2 separate regions of the Homo sapiens genome follow, and region 1 is linked to region 2. Evidence: fine-mapped expression QTL. Tissue or cell type: monocytes after Pam3CSK4. Region 2 holds a variant in brackets; the other region holds the start of a gene. All regions are shown on one strand. Distances are between the middles of the regions.

Region 1 (8,177 bases), 36 kb after region 2:
ATGTGTGGGACTGCTCCCTGTACAGGTGCAGAGCAGGTACCGAGGGGAGGAGAAAATCCACCGTGTGTGTACTTACTCAAAGCTCGTTCAATAGCCCTCCCAGGATAGCTCTTGGCAGGGCAGCTACCACGTCTCTGGCAGGCTGGAGGGAATCTGAGTGTGAGAAAGTCAGTCATGCGGAGGAAAAGGGAAAAAAAAAAGCTTCAAGTCCTCAGGCAAAATACCTTTTTTCTTCTTCTCTTGCTCTCTCCTTTCTGTAGCTTTAAACCAAACCCACAAACCACTCTGATACCTAGGGGACAAAGGGGAGTTTCACTAGAGATGCAGTTATTTGTTTTATGGTTTGAAAGCAAACAGGTGATGCGGTAAGACAGAGAAGTCGCCCTTCCGGGGCGGGGGTGGGGGGACGCTGTGGGTGGAGACAAGTGCGGGAGCCCCTGGTTGTATGTATTGGGCATGACACGGTGAGAACGATTCAGAACGATGCTGGTGTCACAGGGGGATCAAAGAAGTGACCTCCACTGATGAACTGGGCTCCATTTTCTCTTTGCTTTGGGAGTCGGGGGAAAAGGATGACTGAAAAATAAAGGCTGTTTCTATCTATCTAAGAGCATTCTTCCAGATGCAGATGCTTCTTCCTGAGTTTAGGAGCTTACTGTCCCATTTGAGAAGGGGTGGGGAGAGGACAACGTTGGTCCTATTTTCACTGCCTAGCATAAGGAAACTGAAAAGTCATCTGTGAGCCCATCTGCAAGAAACTCTTCTTGAATGGTTAGAGTGGAAAGCCAGAGAGTTCCTGGAATTTATTTTTATTTATTATTTATTTATTTTTGGTCCAGACACAAATTCATAATTTTTTTTGTTACTTGAGCCTCTGTCCCCCTATCTAAAAACGTGTGTGTGAAAGTTACTTGCCCATTCCACCAGTCCAAGCACTCCCAAAGTGGCAATAAACGAGTTGCTGATTAACTATTTGACCCACGAGGCTGCTTTAGCCCCTTCAGTGAGACCCTAACTTGACCATATTCCATTCCCCATGCACCTTCAGGGCACCAAATAAGAGTGGGGAACAGAATCAGATGAAAAAGTCTCTTAGAATGGGCAGGGAGTGGCATAACCCAGTAGTTAATGAGGGCCGACCAGCAGACAGCAGTCAATGTCATGGCAGAGCCTGGCAGAGCCTAGCAGAGCAGGCACTGGTTCTGAAAGATTTGGGGGGAACCTGGAAAGGGTTAACATGCTTCCCCGGGAAGGGTTTAGTTCCTCAGAAGAATCTGGGTCAGTGTATTTGGGAAGTTTTTAAAAAGTCAGACGCTCAGTAGAAGCATTTTAAGAAGCTTGCAAAGCTTATTGGGGCCATGGCAGAAAGGAGGGTAACTTCATAGGCTCATCACCTTTCACCAAGAGGATTTTCACCACACAGGAAAACCCTACGTTTTCCAAAAGCAACAGACAATTTTCTGTCATCACCACTTTTCCATCTGTTTAAAATAAGAAAGAAAATTCCTTCCCCTTTGGCCCAGGTTGCAGGTCAACAAAGGAGGCATTGTTCATCATTTCTTCAGAACATGACAGGGCACAGCTCACTCTGCAGTGTAAGAAAACATTTTTTAAAAAAAATCTCAGAGTAGCCTTAGGGGCAACAGTGAGTAAACCAAAGCCTTCGATGAGGGAAATGTTTGGTTGCAGACTGGAGGACTATCCTGGAAGGTGGAAATGAGGCTTAGGTTAATACGGTCAGAGCCATGATTCCTTAGTTAGACTCAGGAATTAAATCTGAGTTCCTGAGTTCCTGGTTGGGGGTTGGGAACACTGCATTAAAGGGTAGGCAGGTTTGAGTTGAACTCAGTTCCCAAGAGCGTGCGGTCAATGTCCAGAGGAGCTGGATGTAGACAGATGCCTCTGGGAGTCAGTCTGCACCTGCCTCCTAGGAACCTTCTTCACTGGCTTGAACTGCCTAACTGCCCTTTCTGCCTCCAAGCCCTGCAATCCACTCTCCCACTTTTGCCAGAGCCATCTTTCTAAAGGGAAACCCTGATGCCTCTTCTTTGCTCAAGAATGTTTCATGGCTCTCCACTGTCTAAAGATAAGGTCCAAAGTCCTTCAGCAAGATGTTTAAGGAGCTTGTGACATGGCCTCAAGCTGCCTCTTCCAGTCCCTCACATTCCCTAGGCTCCAGACCATGTTCCCTGAATAAAGTCTTCAAGTTCCAGGATCTTGGCCTTTAATACCATGGGTACCTGCATCCTCTCCAGCCCACGACTAAGCACATTCCCAATGCCCCAATCCTACCTATTTTTCAAGGTACACAGGCCAATCCCTCCAGGAAGTTTTCCAAGGTACCCCAACTTAAAAGTAACTTAATTCTCCTGAAACTCCATAGCATTTTACCTCTATCCAGACATACGTCTCTCTTGAACCTACGACTTCCCAGAGGAATTTACTGGGCCATCCGTAGATGTCAGCTGTACACGTTTATATGTATCTCTAGACTGTTAGCTTCCAGAGAGCAATAACGGTCTTACTCACTGCTGTAAACCCAGGTAGACCAGCAATACTGTTATCCATACAAGTATGGTTTCATATTTTGTTTCTGTCCTCCTGATCTCTCAAGCCACCACCTAACTCAGAAAAGAAAGGAAAAATAAAGGAATGTCCAGTCATCAATCAGAAAATCAGCGTCTGTCTGCCCCCGCAGTTTACTGTCAACTTCTAGCAGGCCGCCACTGTATCTCTCACCGTGGAAATCCCAGGGTTTAACACAGTGTCTGACACTGCGCGTGTGTTCCACAATGAAAGAGAGAGGGGGGCTTGCCCAAGGTCACCCAGAGTCAGGAACCACTGAATCTCATCCGGGACGAGATCTGGCGAAATCATTGACAACGTTATCTCAGTGGGGAGCTGGGAGGCCGGAAGGAATGAAGTGTCTGAGAACCGTGCGCCAGGCCTCCGGGACGCGGGAAGGGCTGAGGGGGCGGGAGGCCACATCAAACAAGACGCTGGGCTCCCGGGCTGCCCGGAGCCGCGAGCCGAGCTCCCAGGCGGCGGGAAGGGCGGAGGGGGGGTGGGGGCACGGGGGCCGGCGACCCGGGCAGGCGGGAGGGAGGCGGAGGAGGCGGCCGGCCGGCCCAGGCAGTGCGCGCCGCCCGCCCGGCTCGGCAAATCCCCCAGGGAGGCCGCCGCCAGAGCCCTGGCGCTCCCGGCCCGGCGCCCGCCACGTGGCACCCGGCGGCGGCGGCGGCGACTCCTCCCGGCGCGCGGCCCGGCCAGCAGGCAGCACGCAGCCGCCCGCGCCGCCCGCCTCCTCCCGGGCGCCCGCCGGCGGCCTCCCGGGCGTAGTGAGGGGGAGCGGCCCGGCCGCCCGGGACCCGGGGAAGGGGCGGGCGGCGCGAAGCCGCTTTAACCGCAGTCGCCGAGCGGAGGCAGGAGGCTGACCCGGCCGCTTCCTAAGTGCGGTCAGGCATCCCGTGACCGCGGCGGGCGCCCAGGGCCCCGCGGGGAGAGGGCGGGGGCGAGGAGCAAACTTGGAGGCCCCCACCTCGCCCCCGGGCTGTTGCGAATGCGGCTTTCGGCCGAGTGAAAACCCCAAGCCCGAAAGTGAGGGTGGGGAGGCGGGGGTTGGAAGAATTCCCCACTCTCCACCCCGGGTGTGCGCTCCCCGCCGGGAAGAGCTGACCTTGGCCTGGGGAGGCGGGGGTGGGGAGAGAGGGTAAGCGCCGGGGCTCGGCTCCCAGCCCGCCGCCCCCTCGGATTCCTGGCCCGGCGGGGCCGGAGGAGGGGGCCCCGGACACACACACACACACACCCCCCACACGCAGCGCGCGCCAATGAGCCCGGGCCAGGCGCAGGGGGCGGGGTTTTCCCAGGCTCGAGCACAGCAGCTGCTATTTACCTTCTTGGCTTCTCCCGGGGACCAGGAACCGGCCCCCGCTCTCCGCCGCCCGTCGCCGCCCCCCGCCTCCCTGCCCCCGGGGCGCGCGCACACACACTCACTCACACACGCACGCACACACACATCCTCCCGGCCCGGCCGCAGCCGCGGCGGCAATAAAACATCCTGGCACGTGCTCCGGCTCCAGGCGCGCCCACGCCGGCCGGCTGATGTCAAACTGCAGCTCGGCTGGTGTAGCTCTTAAAGGGCCCGCGGGCGCCGGGGGCCGAGGCCGCCCGCGGGGCGAGGAGGGAGAGGCTGCTTCCTTGCCCGCCACCTCAACGCGCCGCAGAACCTAAAGCCTACGGATGAAAAGGGAAAGGGTGGTGAAGGAGGGCGCGAGTCCCTGAGTCATTGCCCTCGGAGCCCCCCTTGTTCATTTTTTCATTTGAAATACCGTTTCCTTCCACCCAGTTGGAAATTATTCTGATTGTTTCCTGGGGAAGCCCGGGGTCTAAGGCCCCAAATCCAAACGAGGAATTTCTGAAAGACGGGGTGGGGGTGGGATTCAAGAACTACCTTGCTCCGAAAAACCTGCATTTGTGAGGTAGAAGGCAATTTTTCCTTTTTCTGCATGGAAACAGGAAAATTTTTTTGGCCCTTTTCCTTTACCATCTACTTTCACCCTCCTGAATGTAAAGTCTGAGCGGGAACTTTAGATGTGTCGGTAACTCACATTCTTACACCCGTCCCCCCCTCCCCCCGCCCCCTTTTAACCACTGCTGTTTTTTTCTTTATTGTTTATACCTTTAAAAAAAATATGTTTCAAATGAACTTACTACAGTCAAAGCAGCTCTGTTACATATGAGAGAGGGCATAAAGAGCAAAGACCCTGGCTCCAAAAGAAATAGACAAGATCAAGACCAAAGCGGAAAGAAAAAAAAAATCTCTAAACCAAAGCCCAGAGGGAGAGTAGCAAAGGGTTAAAATCCTTTTGATTGACGTTGTAGCCTCCGGTGCCCTGGGCTCAGGCGCGCGCCATTGGCCGCCAGACCTTGTGCCTGGCGGCCAATGGGGGGGCGCGGTCCACGAGCGGTGCCGCGTGTCTCCTCCTCCCATTGGCTGAAAGTTACTGTGGGAAAGAAAGTTTGGGAAGTTTCACACGAGCCGTTCGCGTGCAGTCCCAGATATATATAGAGGCCGCCAGGGCCTAGGGATCACACAGGATCCGGAGCTGGTGCTGATAACAGCGGAATCCCCCGTCTACCTCTCTCCTTGGTCCTGGAACAGCGCTACTGATCACCAAGTAGCCACAAAATATAATAAACCCTCAGCACTTGCTCAGTAGTTTTGTGAAAGTCTCAAGTAAAAGAGACACAAACAAAAAATTCTTTTTCGTGAAGAACTCCAAAAATAAAATTCTCTAGAGATAAAAAAAAAAAAAAAAGGAAAATGCCAGCTGATATAATGGAGAAAAATTCCTCGTCCCCGGTGGCTGCTACCCCAGCCAGTGTCAACACGACACCGGATAAACCAAAGACAGCATCTGAGCACAGAAAGGTAAGGGCGGTACCTGTATCTCTTTGCAGCCCCTCAAAATTAAGTAGGGGTTGGGGGGCTTCTTTCTGTCTTGAAACCCCGGGATGGCAGATTCCATGGGAACACAGAACTCTTTTTTTTATTTGCAGTCATCAAAGCCTATTATGGAGAAAAGACGAAGAGCAAGAATAAATGAAAGTCTGAGCCAGCTGAAAACACTGATTTTGGATGCTCTGAAGAAAGATGTAAGTGGGGAAATGCTGCTCGCTCTTTTAATTAAAAAACAAACACTTTCTCAGCTACTAAGAGTGAAACCCCCCGCCCTGCGGGGTCTGGCACTCGCTGGTACTGCGTTCTCCCAGGCGGGAGGGCCCGGCCTTATTCGCTGGGGTCCAGAGATAATGCTTGCGCTCCGTGGCCGGGAGGAGGGACCCCCAGCACTCTGAAGCAGCTGACACGGGGCTCACTTTCCTTTCTTGCCTACTCTATGCAGAGCTCGCGGCATTCCAAGCTGGAGAAGGCGGACATTCTGGAAATGACAGTGAAGCACCTCCGGAACCTGCAGCGGGCGCAGATGACGGGTGAGGGCGGCTCGCCGCGTCCCCCTGTGCGGGCGTCCCGCTCGCCTCGCGGTGATTTCTTCCAGACTTCCGCCCGTGGTTGTGAGAGGCATTCAGCTACATTTTACTGCCTTGGCTCACTCTTGCGTTCCCACGGTCTGGGGCTTATTTATAGCCACAACTCCAAGTTGTTACTGTTCCGGAAAGGGAGGGAAAGAGGTTGCAGCCGCGAGGGTGGCGGGCGCCGGGTAGGGGCGAAAGGACTTAGGACTGTGGCGGTTTGGAACTGCGTGGAGCCTGGGGGTCACTGGTTTAGCACTCCTTCCCGTTGCAGAAGGGGAAATGAGGCTTGGATGATGGATTGGGAGGCATTGTCCAAGGTCACATCGCGCGCGGGGGTGGGGGTGACAGATCTGGGGCTGAGATAGGTTTAAATGCAGCTACAGGGAATCGGGAAGGAGTGGCTCGGCTTTTGGCAGCAACGCTAGTGTGGAGAGGTGGCTGGTTTTTTCTAAACCCATCTCACCCTCCCTGCCGGAGGCAGTTTCACGGGCGCATGGTCAGGGAGGCGCGCCACAGGGACCTCCCAGGGCGGAGGCAGTGGCCACGGGGCCAGGGCCGTTCGGTGACCCGTCTGTCTCTTTCTGGCCCGCAGCTGCGCTGAGCACAGACCCAAGTGTGCTGGGGAAGTACCGAGCCGGCTTCAGCGAGTGCATGAACGAGGTGACCCGCTTCCTGTCCACGTGCGAGGGCGTTAATACCGAGGTGCGCACTCGGCTGCTCGGCCACCTGGCCAACTGCATGACCCAGATCAATGCCATGACCTACCCCGGGCAGCCGCACCCCGCCTTGCAGGCGCCGCCACCGCCCCCACCGGGACCCGGCGGCCCCCAGCACGCGCCGTTCGCGCCGCCGCCGCCACTCGTGCCCATCCCCGGGGGCGCGGCGCCCCCTCCCGGCGGCGCCCCCTGCAAGCTGGGCAGCCAGGCTGGAGAGGCGGCTAAGGTGTTTGGAGGCTTCCAGGTGGTACCGGCTCCCGATGGCCAGTTTGCTTTCCTCATTCCCAACGGGGCCTTCGCGCACAGCGGCCCTGTCATCCCCGTCTACACCAGCAACAGCGGCACCTCCGTGGGCCCCAACGCAGTGTCACCTTCCAGCGGCCCCTCGCTTACGGCGGACTCCATGTGGAGGCCGTGGCGGAACTGAGGGGGCTCAGGCCACCCCTCCTCCTAAACTCCCCAACCCACCTCTCTTCCCTCCGGACTCTAAACAGGAACTTGAATACTGGGAGAGAAGAGGACTTTTTTGATTAAGTGGTTACTTTGTGTTTTTTTAATTTCTAAGAAGTTACTTTTTGTAGAGAGAGCTGTATTAAGTGACTGACCATGCACTATATTTGTATATATTTTATATGTTCATATTGGATTGCGCCTTTGTATTATAAAAGCTCAGATGACATTTCGTTTTTTACACGAGATTTCTTTTTTATGTGATGCCAAAGATGTTTGAAAATGCTCTTAAAATATCTTCCTTTGGGGAAGTTTATTTGAGAAAATATAATAAAAGAAAAAAGTAAAGGCTTTTATGTCTTCGAACTGATTCTTCCAGAATATGTAAAAAGGCTTTTGGTGGAATTTGAATTACATGTAATTGGTAATTCAGGAATTGACTCTTTTGTTATTAAAAGAACATTTGTAAAAATCCATCAAACTTTTCACCAATCCTCCATGAACTAAAAAGACTAAATTCCATTTACTTTACAAGCAGCCATCTGGTAAGGCTTCCCTGATAAACTTGTGGTCAGTCTCTTAAAGGATTTCCAAAAAAAATGTTTTTAAGTTGCAGTCGGGTAAGTCTGCAGCCCTTGTTCTTCTAGCTCCTCCTGAGGAAGATTGAACAGGACTAAATTCACGAAGCTAATGGATCCAATCCTATTGCCCATTGCACGTTAAGGGTGGTTCCTGCAGCTCTCCTCTCAGGGTAGCTCACCAGCATCCAAAGCAAAAACACTTCCAACTGCTGCGCCTCCTTCAAGACTTGGGGTCTTCATTAATTAGCCAATCCTTTGGTTCAAATAAGACGTTCCCTAGCACCCAAAAGTTTCCTCTCCGCACCCTCTTAAAGCAAGCTGAAAAGGTCAACAGATTCCTTCTGCCAAGGGACAGTTAGTTAGACTCCCAAGTGGAGGCCGAGCCCAGATGATTAAC
Region 2 (8,177 bases):
CTCAGCCTCCCGAGTAGCTGGGACTACAGGTGCACGCCACCACACCCAGCTAATTTTTGTATTTTTAGTAGAGACAGGGTTTCACCATGTTGCCCAGGCTGGTCTTTAACTCCTGGCCTCAGGTGATCCACCCCCTTTTATCTCCCAAAGTACTGGGAATACAGGTGTGAGCCACCACACCCAGCCTGGTTAGCCACATTTTAAGTGCTCAGTAGCCTTATGGAGACAGGTGTTACTGTACTGGATAGTGCAGGCCTCGGGTTTTTGGCATCTCTAACTATCACTCCTCAATACTCTTCACTTCGTACAGGAACAAAAGGTTCCCATAAAATGTTCCTTAGACATATGAAACATTGACACCATGGAATACTATGTAGCCAAACACCAAAAAACCAAGGACACTCTTTTATGGACCCATAGAAAGAGCGCCAAGACATATCATAAAGTGAAAAAGGCAAGATACAAACAGGGTATATGGAATTCTACCACTGCAGGAAATACGCATATTTGGCGGTACATGCACCGACTATCTGTAGGATTCTTAAGAAACTGAGAACATTGGCAGGGGAAACTGGATGGATGGAGGGCAGGTTGGGAGGAAGACTTTTCATAGCATGTAGTTTACACTTTTTGAATTGTGAATATGTGGATGTATCACTCAAAAATTAAAATCAGAACTTCAGTTAATGGGCACACCTTGGCATGTGTAGCCTGCCCAGGCACCTCTGTTCCTGCTCGGTGCTTGCCCTGGCTCCCCAGCAGTGCCCCAGGAGGAGCAGGCACAGGTCAGGTCGCTGTTGTGCCTGCTGTTCCACAGTAGGAAGAGGGAGGCTTGGCAGAGGCCCAGACAGGAAGACATGATATCAAGTGACTCTAAAGGGCCCTTTTGTTTCCGGAAAGGCAGCAGTTTCCACACAGCATCCCTGCCCCCACTGACAGCCCACTGGCCCTGGGATCCCTTTGCCACCTGCTGCAAGAGCATCATTTCTCCCCCGGAAGAGCCTCTGGGCCTGAGGTGGGGAGGAGAGGGGAGCACTGGCTGGGAAGGGGCATCATTCTAGCTTCCCAAAGGATGTCAGTTGTTCCCAGAATGTCATTTCCAGAGGCATGATGCCACCCTGCCAGCTGTCCTCCAAATTTTGGCATCCCCAGCCTGCCTGTGGCAGAGCAATCTCACTAAGAAAATAGAGCACGAGCACGTGTGCATGTGTGTGTCCCCCTGTGAGCATCTGCGGCCCGTGCACTGGCATGCATTCACTCCATTCATTAACTCCTTCGGAAGACGTTCACTGAGCACCTACTATATTCCAGTCACTGTGCTACGCCCTTGGGATACAGCCAGGAGCAAGACGGTAGAGGTCCTGCCCTCATAGAGCTTATAGTCCAGCAGGATAAATTGACATTAAATTTTAAATAATTCAGTCCCACCCGTAGGGATAAGTGGAAGGAAAAGTACATGCAATTGGGGCACACGATCTAGTGTAAGAGGCCAGGGAAGGTGGAGCAAAGGAACTGGCGTTTGAGACTAAGAAATGTATCAATCGGCCGAGTGCAGTGGCTCACACCTGTAATCCCAGCACTTTGGGAGGCCCAGGCCGGTGGATCACCTGAGGTCAGGAGTTCGAGGCCAGCCTGGCCAGCATGGTGAAACCCTGTCCCTACTAAAAATATGAAAATTAGCCAGGCGTGGTGGCATGCGCCTGTAATCCCAGCTACTCAGGAGGCTGAGGCAGAAGAATCACTTGAGCCCAGGAGGCGGAGGTTGCAGTGAACCGAGATCACGCCACTGCACTCCGGCCTGAGCAACAAGAGCAAACCTCCATCTCAAAAAAAAAAAAAGAAATATATCAATCTAGAGATGGTAAGAAGTGACAAGTGGGCCTTCCACAGACAAGGAACCTGCTCCATGTCCTTGAATAAACCACACCCCCTTAACATTGTTTTATTTGGAAATACATTTTACATTTCAAAAAATTACAAAAATAAAAATAGTACAAAGAACACCTGTATATTTTTTACCCAGATGATTCACTGTTGCTCCCATTTTACCCCATTTGCTTTATCCATCGTGTGTGCCTGCATGCACTCTCCCACTCCACACACATACAGAATTCTTTTCTGAAGAATTTGAGGGTACATTTCACACAGCATAGCCCTTTAGTGCTAAATACTCAGAATCAGATGCCCTTTCCAAGCTCAGTTTGCTCAGTTAGAGCACAAAAAGGATAAGCCCTGTCCTCTCCACCTACCAGGGCAGCTGCAAAGAGCACATGAGATCCTGCACAAGCAAACTCTTGGACACACAGCAAAACTATTATCTTTTTTGGAAGCACTTCTTGGAATTTGGAAATGAAAGGTGATTTCCCAGAGAAATGCCCAGGTTCTCAGTTCCTCCAGGAGACAGCATGTTCTTCAGCCAGGCCTGGTGTGTGTGTGTGTGTGTGTGTGTGGTGTGTGTGTGTAGGTCAGCAGCGTTCCCCTGCAGCCCCTCCTCTCCATCAGGCAGCCAGGGCAGACTTGAGCTCTGGTGAGCACCTTTCTGGCTGATGAGCTCCCCTGGCTCCAGGGAAGCCTTGGGAGGGCAACCGTGGCTTGAAAACAATGCTCATCCGCCCCTGGGAAGGGCTCCTTCTCCTTGATGAAATGGAACCGAGCCAGCACGGAAACCCAGACCTGCATTCAGGGAGCCCACAAATACTCACAGAGCACAATAAACAAGTGTTGGTCCTCTCAGCACGTTTTGGGACCCATCTCCTTAATGAGAACAATAAATTCACACGAGGAAAGGTGGTCGCCAAGCAAAAGCGACTGACACACTCCCCCGGCTTCCTTGGCCCCGGGGGACTACCCCCTCTGAGCGTGGGACCTGCAGAATCAATAACTGGAAGGGACAAGGGCCAGACCTACGGAGTCAGAACTTCTGGGCTCAGAGCCTAGGAATGTGTATTTTTAAAGGCTTCCTGGAGGACAATCAGGTTTAGCAACCACTGGCCTAAAAACCCTGTGAGATCACTCCTAGCGCTGAAATACTCTGGTCCTGTGAATAGGAAAATGGATCTAAAGGTAGAAGATACACAGACACAGTTAAATAGGGGTGCATTCATCCCTGGACCCCAAAAAGGCACTTGATCATAGTTTCCGCAGAGCTGAAATCTTAAGCCCTTTGCTGGCAGCCTGTGAATCCTGGAAGGGAAACGTGTACAGCCAAGCCTCAGCATGGGTGCAAGGATGTCTTCCAGCTCCTCTCCCTCCTTAGTTTGTCAAAACCATCCCTGATGTACAGATTCTGTCCCCAGACTGCAAGTTCTCCCTGGGTTGGGGAGAAGAGGTGGAGGAGAATCAGGGAGGCAGCCACAGTCTGCTCTAGCTGCATTGACAAGAACTGGTTGCTGGCTGGTGTGGGCCAGCTCAGAGGAGCACAGCTGTGAGCAAGGCCAGGTGCAGTCGGCCTGAGTGAGCCCAGAGGGGCCAGCTGTCCGGCCCAAGCTAGGGAGCAGTGCTCACTGACCACAGGGCAGTGGGGACTCTGTTCTCTGTGTGGCTGGCTTCTTTTCTTTTTTTTTTTTTCCTCAAGTGACCCACACCCCTCAATGGGTCACTCTGCCTCTCACTGGAGGTTTCTTCTTGAGTTTCTAGGCAAACACTGGGGCTCTGGGGCCCTGCAACCTTATCCCTCCCATCGTTAAACTGTGTGAGAGTTCCAGGGAGCCAAAATCTGGGTGTGCCTCCTCCCCTGCCCCAGCACTCAGCATTGTCCCAGGCAGACAGCAGGCACTAAGGAAATGACGGAGAGAGGGACGCAGGAATGGAAGGGAAAGGAGAAGAAAGAGGAGAGGAAGGGAGGGAGAAAGGAATGAAGGCTGCAATACAGCTGCAGGAAAACCCCGTTCTTATTCGACCCACTGCATCAGATTTCTCCCCAGG[G/T]CCTCTTCCAGGAAAGCTCCTTTGGTGAAACCCGGTTCATAACTACTTCCCCTCCCTCTCACCATCACGCTAGGACTTCTCTTGTGAGGGAAGAGTGTGACTAAACTAAAAGCGTGAACTAAATGGACTTTACAAATGGTTTTCCAGACGTCAGAAGCCACCCACCTTGCACACAGAAGGAATAACTGACAGATTGAAAGAACTGGCATCTCTGAATGTCCAAATCTGTCCTATTCTTCAAGATCCAGAGGCAAGAGCTACCACCTCAGTGAAGTCTTCCCGGATTTCTCTAACAGGAGGTGATCTCTCCTCCTCTAAAACTACACAACACGCTATCCATCCTTCTTTGACTGATAAGCTGCAGTTTTTCTGCCTTATGATACAGCCATTTTGTGAACATGAAAAGGGCGACACCAAGGAAATAGCAAAAGCTTGGCAGTCAGACTTTCCCAAGGTTAAATCCCACCTCTCCCTCTTGCCAGCTGTGTGAGTGTGGAGGAGTTGCTTATCCTCAGTTTCTTCGTGTATCAAATCAGGATAATAACCACATGGCAAGTTTGTTGTAGGGATTACAATGGGATAGAGATTAGTGGGGTTCACATCATTCCCATATTTCCTTTCCCATCCCAGGGAAGAATTACACTTCTCTGTCCCGCTTGAAGTTAGGTATGTCCATGTGACATCCTCTGGCCAATGACATGTGAGCAGAAGTCACGAGTGTCCCCTCCGGGCAGAAGCGTTTCAGAGTTGGTGCACATTTCCTGTGCTCTCTTCCCTGGCCGCAGCAACAGCCAGGAAAGAGAACAGCTCCCGTGTTGAGAAGGTGGCATCGTCAGATGGTACAGCACCCTTCGGATTGGCAGCCATCAGCACATCCCTCTGCCGAAGAGCTGTCCAGAGGATGTAACATCAGTGAGAGACAAATGCCTGTTGCCTCCAGCCACTGAGATTCTGAGGTTGTTTGTTACCACAGCATTACCTAACCTATTCTAATACAAGACAAGATGTATGCGGGACCCTTAGCATGGCTCCGATACATAGTAAGTACTTGATAAATATGCCATGACTGAAGAAATAGTCAAACAAATCTGTGAACAAATGAATAGACTAGTAAATATGTCCAAACTGGAGCTGTGCTCCCTCAGGAAGGTCTGGACAAGTCTCCTGGCACCTTCGAGGTGAATGTAAATGCCTTATTCATGTGCCACTGGTGGCCATGTTACACCTGAACAGTAGGGATGGCTGTCCTTTATGACTTTTCTCCCTGCTTATCCAGGAATGCAATGTCACCCATGCAAGCCCCACACTTCTCCCTGGACTCCACCTCTCCCTGCCACCTGTAACTGAGGATTCCGGGAGTTGGGGCTCTCGGTTCTGGTGTGTTTGCCATCAGGAGAGTCACACTCCCAGCAAAGTGATGCTGGAGGATCCCTTGAGCCTCCCCACCACCCACCGCCCACAAGGCACGGTCCAGAGAGAAGGGGCTGGGGAGCGGGAATCAGAGGCAACTAGTTGCTGTTCTTCTCCAGTCCTGGAAACTGAGGGGCCTTCACAGGAAGCTACTTCACACAACTCAGACCCATCCAGTTGAAAATAGACAGGCCTCAGCCCAGAAGGGAGCTGAAAACGGCCATGAGCAACCCCTGTAGAGTGCACAGGGGTTTGTAGCTTTACCATGTATTGTTTTCATATCCAGTGCCTGCTGTGGTCCCAACAGCAACTCGATGAAGTTGCCTGGATTGGAATCATGATTGCCCCATTTTACAAAAAAAAGAAACTAAGGCTGGGATAGGGAGATGAATTCTTCAAGACACTCCGTAGTGTCTAGAGGAGCTGGACTCAGTCATTGCTATCAGGAGCTGGCCTGAGTCTTCCCTCTGCCCACCGAAGGAGGGGCTGACAGCCCTTTTTTTATTTTTTCACATCAAGGACATCCTTTTTCTTCTGGCAGATACCTACTGCTTGATGAAGCAGGCGTATGGTGTGTTCACCAACAATCTTTAAAGACTGCTCCCCATAACTATAAAAGCAATAAAAAGGAGAGAGAGGGAGGAAGGAGAGAAACCAACACATCACCCAGGGGAAGAAGGGAGAGAGAAAAGCCTTCTTCTGAAGGACTAAGGTCCTGGCCCCACTGCAATGCGGGGTGTGTGCATCAGAGGTAGCCAGCAGCAAGGCACCGGGCATGTGATCAGAGTCACTGCTGAGTGGACCTGAGGCCAGAGCTGGGAACTAGCAAGGGCCAAGTCCAAAAGCAAAGGCGAAATGGAGCTGGGAGAGTAAGCGCCAGGTCAGGTGGTGGGGAGGAGGATGCTGAGGACAGGTCCGGAAAGCCTGGGGGTGCCGGAGTCCCCATTCTGTGGTGTTTTTGCAGGTTTGAGGACAGGTGTGGTGGCCACAGGGGACCTGCAGGGCGAGGTGTAGTTTCCTCTTCTGGCCGATGAAGTGGTTGACCCTGGGTTTCTCTGCTTGCCCCCAGCTCTGACGTTGAGATGGTTTTTCATGAACCGAAAGCTTTTCGATTCTCAATCTCTAGACCACTGAGAGCTGTGTCACATCCAGACTCAGAGCTAACCAGCAAGCACAGGAGATACCACTGCGCTCTCCCCTTCATACCTCACGACCCAACCAGGAGAGCAGTTCATGCCTGCCGTACCGATGGGGAAACTGAGGCTTTAAGAGGCGAAGGTACTTCCCTAAGTACCACAACTAGGAAGTGGAGAAATTTGAATGCACTCCTAGCTGACTGCAAACTTCAGGTTATTTCTACTGCATGAAGCTGCTTCCTAAGTTCAGAGTAAAGATCCACCCAGGGTCACAGTCCCCTGGGGCCATTTTTCAGAAAGTTGGCCACCTACATCAATGAACTAAAAAGGAGCAGTGATAAGGCTCCATCTCTTTCCTTTCCTTTGCCCAAAGAGAATGAGCACTCATACCAACAGCAGTAGTGCAGAAAGCCATTTGCCCCCGTGTCCTTTACAGAGACAAACAGATAACCCTTATTTGCAAGCTGGGTAAAATATTAACTCAGCACCCAAGGGCGCTGTCCAATACAAGCAAGACAAAGTCCTTGGCTTTAGTTTGGGAGCTCAGAACTAAGCATCCACCCTCAGGCTGTCCTCCCACACCCCCAGGTGCAGGGTCCCCTTCCCTCACCATTACAGCATTGCAAGAAGGCAGCACAATGCCTCCGCAGCCTGGAGAAGCAAGGGAGAGCACAGTCCTCACATCCAACTAAAGGTTCCCTAAGGTGCAGGGCTGTGTTTGCACCCTCTGCCTGCTCAGACAGCCATTCCAGGAAGTGATTTTGCTTCTGCATGTACTCCTATGGGTGCCACCCACCCTCACTTTTGGTCTCACCCACTGTGACCCGGCAGAGACTCCACATCATGATGGCTTTCAAGAGGTACAGCTCCCACTCTCCTGGCTGGCTCAGGAAGGGAGTGGCCTCTCCCAGATGTACCAAAGTGCCTTTTCTCTGGGCCCTCAGTGGCATCTCCACTGCTGTTGTCTGCCCATTGGCTGAGCACCACATGCTCCAAGCCTGTGTCCACCACTGCTGTGGACACGCTCAGGCAGCCAGAGGGGAGCAGGCAGTGACAGATCTCAGATGGTGCTGGACGAGGGCTCTGGCCATCTCTTATTTTCTCAGTCCCTATAGGGGCCAACTCGCCTTCCCAACTGGTTGAAAAAAAAAATGACCTACCTGGAAATCAACTTCCCCTCCTTAACTCGAAGTGATGTTAAAATCTTAGGAAGTAGGACATTGCTGCTGGCAGTAAACCTCCCCCACCAGAGCACATGAAGAATAAAAACAAACAAACAAACAAAAGTCTTAGGTGGTTGGCAGTGTAAGCACAGCAGTGACTTTTGGACGGACGGCTCCAACCACAGGACTGAAACCTAAAATGACCCAGGCAATCAGCCCCAAATAAACGAAGCAGGCAGCAAAGACCTCTCAGGTCTGTACTTACTAGTCACGTTATGAGGCCACCTGGAAATAGTAGCCACCCCAATCCCTCCACCCCATACCTCAGAGCCTTTGTTTATGTTGTTCTCTGTCTAGAAGGACCTTCTCTACCTCATTCATTCCTACATAAGCTCAGTGCCACCACCTCAGTGAAGCCTCCCTTAACCTACACAGCCCTGAACTTCACAATCACAGTTACTTGTTTTTTTCTCTAATCATCCCCTAATTTAAGCGTGGCTATTGGACAGCACTTGCCATGTTTTACTATACTTAGCTCTTTTAA

Alleles and levels. Positions count from the first base shown, and alleles are read on the strand shown. Sizes are in standard deviations (SD) of each study's normalised expression.
For the expression in monocytes after Pam3CSK4 of the gene that starts at base 5,091 in region 1, G is the high allele of the variant in region 2 and T is the other (large effect, 0.90 SD a copy in Quach 2016).

Evidence for each region. PIP is the estimated chance that this variant, and not a neighbour inherited with it, causes the effect.
Region 1: HES1 starts here. The variant in region 2 is fine-mapped to the expression of HES1 in monocytes after Pam3CSK4 (Quach 2016, PIP 0.95).

Annotation. Positions count from the first base shown.
Region 1 is chr3:194,131,058-194,139,234 of GRCh38, forward strand. HES1 (hes family bHLH transcription factor 1) reads left to right here and starts at 5,091. Exons shown (of 4, transcript NM_005524.4): 1 at 5,091-5,431; 2 at 5,560-5,655; 3 at 5,904-5,991; 4 at 6,626-7,675. The coding sequence starts at 5,324. The coding sequence ends at 7,176. RefSeq lists silencers at 3,169-3,448, 3,519-4,058, 6,785-6,984 and enhancers at 5,049-6,248, 5,058-5,217, 7,015-7,204.
Region 2 is chr3:194,094,803-194,102,979 of GRCh38, forward strand. The region is part of intron 4 of LOC102724877; the gene reads left to right. Among named protein-coding and RNA genes, the nearest start is that of LINC02028, 28 kb to the left of the region's middle. RefSeq lists an enhancer at 6,135-6,424. The variant G/T (reference allele first, on the strand shown) is at 3,925.